2 linked regions of the Homo sapiens genome follow. The protein of the gene in region 2 binds, or shares a complex with, the protein of the main gene of each other region. Each region holds a gene or a part of one and is shown on either strand. Other genes may lie near its edges.

The links.
Region 1: ARPC5 (region 2) and ARPC3 share a complex: the UniProt entries of both Homo sapiens proteins name them as parts of the arp2/3 complex.

What each region holds. Positions count from the first base shown.
Region 1 is NC_000012.12:110,440,338-110,443,837, reverse strand, and holds part of ARPC3 (actin-related protein 2/3 complex subunit 3), read left to right. Parts: intron 1-3,449; coding exon 3,450-3,500. UniProt on the Homo sapiens protein: Component of the Arp2/3 complex, a multiprotein complex that mediates actin polymerization upon stimulation by nucleation-promoting factor (NPF).
Region 2 is NC_000001.11:183,629,284-183,632,783, forward strand, and holds part of ARPC5 (actin-related protein 2/3 complex subunit 5), read right to left. Parts: intron 1,355-3,500; coding exon 1,178-1,354; intron 1-1,177. UniProt on the Homo sapiens protein: Component of the Arp2/3 complex, a multiprotein complex that mediates actin polymerization upon stimulation by nucleation-promoting factor (NPF).

The DNA.
Region 1 (3,500 bases), on a different chromosome or scaffold from region 2:
CCTTTGCCCCCTCCTGTCATTGCATTTAGAAGAACTAGCTGGTTTTTGGAAACAATATTGAGTCCTCCAAGACAGTTTTCTTTCACAGATAAGAAAACAGATTGCAGCCAGGCATAGTGGCTCACGCCTGTAATCCCAGCACTTTGGGAGGCTGAGGCGGGCAGATTGCCTCAGGTCAGGAGTTTGAGACCAGCCTGGCCAACATGGTGAAACTCTGTCTCTACCAAAAATACCAAAATTAGCTAGCTGTGGTGGCAGGCACCTGTAGTCCCAGCTACATGGGAGGCTGAGACAGGAGAATCACTTGAACTCAGGAGGCGGAGGTTGCACTGGGCCTAGATTGTGCCATGGCACTCCAGCCTGGGCGACAAAGTGAGACTTGATCTCGAAAAAATAAATAAATAAAAAATAGGGCGTGGCGCGGTGGCTCACGCCTGTAATCCCAGTACTTTAGCACTTTGGGAGGCCAAGACGGGTGGATCACGAGGTCAGGAGATCGAGACCATCCTGGCTAACACGGTGAAACCCCATCTCTACTAAAAATACAAAAAATTAGCCAAGCGTGGTGGCGGGCTCCTGTAGTCCCAGGTACTCGGGAGGCTGAGGCAGGAGAATGGCGTGAACCCAGGAGGCAGAGCTTGCAGTGAGCCAAGATTGCACCACTGCACTCCAGCCTGGGCAACAGAGCGAGACTCCATCTCAAAAAAAAAAAAAGTAAATTGCAAGGAACACAAGTCTAGAGTTAGAGTTCTGTTGAAATTCTTCCACAGGGCAATGAGCTGGGATGAAGACAACTGAATTGCAGAGTATGAAAGCTTCAAGATTACTTTGCATTTCTGCTGTGCGAGAACGTTAACAGTCATAGACAAGAAGTATAAGTAACTGTCTCAGCACTGCTGAAACCAACTGCCAGATATCAAGACCCTGGGATTTTGACCTTTTTAAAATAAGAAGAAGAAAAACAAAAAATTGCCAAACAAATTGTGTCATGAGATCTGTCTTTGTCAAGACAGTATTTCTGGCTTTTGTCCGTCTAGAGCTACCTACAACAGCTTGTACAAGTATATTTTAAGTCATAGTTTTCATAAAAAGAAAGATGTGTATCTGAACCTCAACATGTTCTAAATAATTGAGTTTTTTTCTGAAACTATAATATGTAAATTCAAATAAAATTATATTGAATACTTTTTATTTTATTTAATTATATATATTTTTTATTATTACTTTTTTGAGATGGAGTCTCGCTCTGTCACCCAGGCTTGAGTTTGGTGGAATGATCTCAGCTCACTGCAACCTCTGCCTCCTGGGTTCAAGCAATTCTCCTGCCTCAGCCCCCTGAGTAGCTGGGATTACAGGCACGTACCACCATGCCCGGCTAGTTTTTGTATTTTTAGTAGAGACAGGGTTTCTCCATGTTGGCCAGGCTGGTCTCGAACTCCTGACCTCAGGCAATCCATCCGCCTCAGCCTCCCAAAGTGCTGGGACTACAGGCGTGAGCCACTGCGCCCGACTGAATACTTTTTATTTTTAGGAAGCAGTTAAAGTTAGTCTATGTCTCAGTGTTTTTTTATAAATGCATTGAGAGACGTCTTGAATAATGTTCACCAAATGCTAATGGTAGTTATTTTTGGGGAAATGGGAATTAAGGTGACAATTAAAAATTTTTTTTTTGCCTGGTGCTGTGGCTTATGCCTGTAATCCTAGCTACTCAGGAGGCAGGAGGATCACTTGAGGCCAGGAGTTTGAGACCAGCCTAGGCAACATAGTGAGACTGCATCTCTAAAAAAAACTTTTTTTTTTTTTTTGGAGACAGAGTTTTGATCTCGTTGCCCAGGCTGGAGTGCAATGGTGCAATCTTGGCTCACTGCATCCTCCACCCGCGAGTTCAAGCGATTCTCCTGCCTTAGCCTCCCGAATAGCTGGGATTACAGGTGCCTGCCACCATGCTTGGCTAATTTTTTGTATTTTTAGTAGAGGCGCAGTTTCACCATGTTGGCCAGGCTGCTCTCAAACTCCTGACCTCAGGTGATCCACCCGTCTCGGCCTCCCAAAGTGTTGGGATTACAGGCGTGAGTCACTGTGCCCAGCCATCTTTAAAAACTTTTCTTTAAAAATTTTATTTAATTTTTAAAGAAAAAAATTAGCCAGGCCTCATGGTGCATGCCTGTAGTCCCGGCTACCTGGGAAGCTGAAGCAGGAGGATCACTTGCGCTCAGGAATTCAAGTCTGTGGTGAGTTATAATTGTACCACTGCACTCCAGCCCGGGTAACAGAGCAAGACCTCTCTCTAAAAAATAAAACTGTTTTGATTGAATTTCATTTTCTAATGAGCATGTATAAGTTTTACGAAAACAATAAAGCTGTAAAAATAAACCATGTACTACTTTTCTATAAATATTTTCTGAAAATCCGGGGGTGGTGGCTCACTCCTGTAATCCCAGCACTTTGGGAGGCTGAGGCAGGCAGATCACGAGGTCAGGAGTTCGAGACCAGCCTGACCAACAAGGTGAAACCCCATTTCTACTAAAAATACAAAAATTAGCCAGGCCTGGTGGTACATGCGTATAATCCCAGCTACTTGGGAGGCTGAGGCAGGAGAATCGCTTGAACCCGGGAGGCAGAGTGAGCCGAGATCATGCCATTTCACTCCAGTCTGGGCGACGGAGCAAGACTCCGTCTCAAAAAAAAAAAATTTGGCCGGGCACGGTGGCTTATGCCTGTGATCCCAGCACGTTGGGAGGCCGAGATGGGCGGATCACGAGGTCAGGAGATCAAGACCATCCTGGCTAACACGGTGAAACCCCGTCTTTACTAAAAATACAAAAAATATAGCTGAGCATGGTGGCAGGTGCCTATAGCCCCAGCTACTTGGGAGGCTGAGGCAGGAGAATGCCGTGAACCCGGGAGGCGGAGCTTGCAGTGAGCCAAGATCGCGCCACTGCACTCCAGCCTGGGCGACAGAGTGAAACTCTGTCTCAAAAAAAAAAACAAAGGCTGGGCACGGTGGCTCATGCCTGTAATCCCAGCACTTTGGGAGGCCGAGATGGGCGGATCACGCGGTCAGGAGATCAAGACCATCCTGGCTAACATGGTGAAACCCCATCTCTACTAAAAATACAAAAAATTAGCGGGGTGTGGTGGCAGGTGCCTGTAGCCCCAGCTACTCAGGAGGCTGAGGCAGGAGAATGGCGTGAACCCGGGAGGCAGAGCTTGCAGTGAGCCAAGATCACGCCACTGCACTCCAGCCTGGGTGACAGAGCGAGACTCTGTCTCAAAAAAAAAACAAATAAATATTTTCTAAAAACTTTGTATTTCAATAGGATCATTTTATTTTATTCAACTCCACAACTGTTGACAGTTGTATGTGTTTTCCCTTTATGGCTTTGATAGTTGTTATGTTTTGTATTTGGCTAATGTTCTCTGTGCTCCTTCCCTTGTGTCCTGCTTAGCAAAAGATACAGATATTGTGGATGAAGCCATCTATTACTTCAAGGCCAATG
Region 2 (3,500 bases):
CTTGGGTTTTAAAGCTAGCTTTTCATCTGTAAATTGAGGATGATAAAGATATTTATATACTTCACAGGGTTGTTGTAAAGGTTAAATAAAACATTAATAGTATGGTACCTGGCAACAGAAAGTGTTCCATGAATAGGGTGCCATATAAATTACTACCCAAATTGGTGCATTTTAGAGTAAAAGGGGGAACTATTGTTTTACTATGTGCTTTTTTCTTATGTTTGTGTTTTCACTCAGATACACTTCAAACACTCAATATTTTTATGACTGGTTCTATTTACATGTTATCCAGTTTTTTACCCAAAGCTCAAAATCACTTATACTCTTTTGACAGATGATGTACCAGCATCTACTTACATTGCAAAATATACACATGAAAATAGAAAAACATGATTTAAGAATTCTTGATCCTCCAAACTCCTAATTCTTTAAAAAAGTTGTAAAATATCTAACACAAAATTTGCCATTTTAACCATCTTTAAGTGTAAAATCCATTGGCATTAATTATATTCACAATGTACTGTAGCCATCACCACTATCTGTTTCCAAAACTTTTTTACCACTCCAAGGAGGAACTCTGTACCTATTAAGCACTAACTCCCTATTCCTTGCTTTCCCTACTTCCTAGTAACCTCTAAGGACTTTCTGTCCCTTTGTGTTTGCCTATCCTAGATTATTTCATATAAGTAAAATTATAAAATATTAGTTCTTTTGTGTTTGGCTCATTTCACTTGGTATGTTTTCAAGGTTTATTAATGTTATAGCATGTGTCAGAATGTCATTCCTTTTAATGGTTGAATCATATTCCATTGTATGTATGTACCACAATTTAGCTGTTCATCTGTTATGATCCTTGTGTTGTTTTCACCTTTTGGTCACTGTGAAAGAATTCTTGATTTGTATTGCTTATTTTCTTTTACAAAGTTTTGATTTAATTCAGAGTTCAAGATTATGTTTAATTACTAATAATCATTGTTGAATAAACACAAGTGTTGGAATCAGAATCTCTTAAGACCAAGGCTAGTAAACATAAATATGAACTATCCTTTTCATGCATTTTATTTGTAATAACAAAAATGTACAACAAATCAAAATGGTTATTTAGGTGAGAGAGGTTGTCATTGTCATTCCCTATTGTAAAAGAACCAGTCATATAGATTTATAATTCATAACTTACCTTTTCATGCCATTGCAGTAACATAGCACTGCTATTGTCAGACGGGCTCTCAAATCCTTTATAAATATACTTCATTAGGAGATCCACACCATTCTTGTCCAGAGATTGAACTGCCTTTTCTATATCATTAGCTTTAAAAGAGATGAGCACCTTCAAGACAATGCTGCCTGCCCGGTCCTGGTGGGTCAATAAATAACAGAACATTTAGACATATCTGTATGAGGAGGGTTTAGAATTTCAGAAAGTCTACACTATGAATGTGACATTTGAGTAAGGACCTGAAGGACGTGAAAGAAGGCTTGGGATAACTGAGGAAAGTGTTTCAGACAGAGGAAAGAACAGTGCTATTAGTGTGTGTTCAGTGTGTTCCAGGAACAGAAAAAAACCCAATGTGGTTGGAGTGGATTGGTGGGAGAAAAGCACGTGAGTAAGTCAGAGGTTATGGGAGGACAGATCGTGTAAGGCCTACAGGCATTGTAAGGAGTTTGGCTTTTACTGAGAGAAATGAGAAGACATTGGAAGGTTTTAAGAGCAGTGCCATAATCTGACTCACATTTTAACAGGATTGCTTTGGCATCTATGTTACAGAAAATAAGCTGTGGGAGTAGGGGATAAGGTAGAAGCAGGGAGAGCAATTAGGAGGCAATTGCAATAATACAGGCTGGATGTGGTAAGCATAGTAGCAGTGGAGGTGGTAAGAAACTAGACAGACTATTAACATAATTGAAGGCAGAGCTGAGAGGATTTGCTAACAGATCAATGTGATAATTTAACAATTTATTAAAACAACATTTAAATTTATGTCTTGATCTTAAAAAAAAAAAATCCCAACAAAACGGCCGGGTGTGGTGGCCCACAGCTGTAATCCCAGCACTTTGGGAGGCCGAGATGGGCAGATCACCTGAGGTCAGGAGTTCGAGACCAGCCTGGCCAAAATGGTAAAACCCTGTCTCTACTAAAAATACAGAAATTATCCAGGCATGGTGGTGTGTGCCTGTGATCCCAGCTACTCGGGAGGCTGAAGCAGGAGGATTGCTTAAACCCGGGAGGCGGAGGGTGCAGTGAGTTGAGATTGCACCACTGCACTCCAACCTGGGTGATAGAGTGAGACTCCGTCTCAAAAAAAAAAAAAAAAAAAAAAAATTCCCAACAAAACAAGGAGGCAGATTTGCAGTTTCACCTTGAATTATCCTTCAGAAGTAATTTTTTCTTAAAAACTTTTTTATTTAAAAATTTTAATAAACCAAGCTGTCTTAAAAGAAAATTGACTGTAATTTATATGAATTGACTGTAGATATGAAATATAGTGATGTTCATTAATAATGATCTTTTTTCTTTGGCAAAAGCCTGCTTCAAAAGCAGTTATTTTCTTACCCATCCGGCCAAGCAAAGGAAACACTTAACTGACCTTTTCAACAATTCGTTTCTCCTTCCATTCAACACAAAGTGATACCTCCAGCATTCCTACTGGTCAGGATTTCACAGAATGTTTCTACCACCTACTGTTATCTTTGGTTTAAAGACTGCAATTACCAGATTTAGAAAAATATCTTTGCATCCACGGTAAAAATGAAATTTCAACGACAATCTTTACAACTTGTAAAAACCAAAGAAATTTTCCCCAATAAAAAATTATGTTACCTAGATAATTATTATGCATTTACCTAAGTTATTACTTACTACTATTCAATTGAGATTCTTGAAGCTCCTAGGATGTATGAATAGCTATGGACAACGGGGTTGATGCTATGGGCATCATTTTAAATAAATACGTAAATAGGTTAAGAATTAGTAAAAGACTGCAGAGAATGTAAGTTGCACAACTGTTCTGAAGGGCAATTTGGCAATACTGCATACCAAAAGCCTTAAAAAAAAGTGCATTCTTTGATCCAGTAATTCACTGCTAGCAATTTACTCAAAGAGAACAATTAAAAATTTACCAAAAAATATTGATTTCAGTGGTTTACAATAGGAAAAAAAAAGTCAGTCTAAATATATAACAAAAGATTAGTTATGTATACACTGCAGCTTATCCATATACAAGTGTTAAAAATGCTATAAACTTATTGCGAAGGAAAGCTCATGTACATTGCATATAGCTGAAAAAGCACGTTATAAAATTTCATTCTTAAAAAAACAAAAGGGAACTCTGTAACAATACAGCAAGGCCCCAAAGTAGTAACTGTTATCTCTGGGTGCTGGGACCACAAACCACTATCTTTTTAACCTTCTCATATGTCTGAGCTTTCTATAATAAGTATTTAGTATTTGTATGGTTTTAAAAAATCTTTAAAAAGCAATTACAATCTGTTTATTTTTGTAA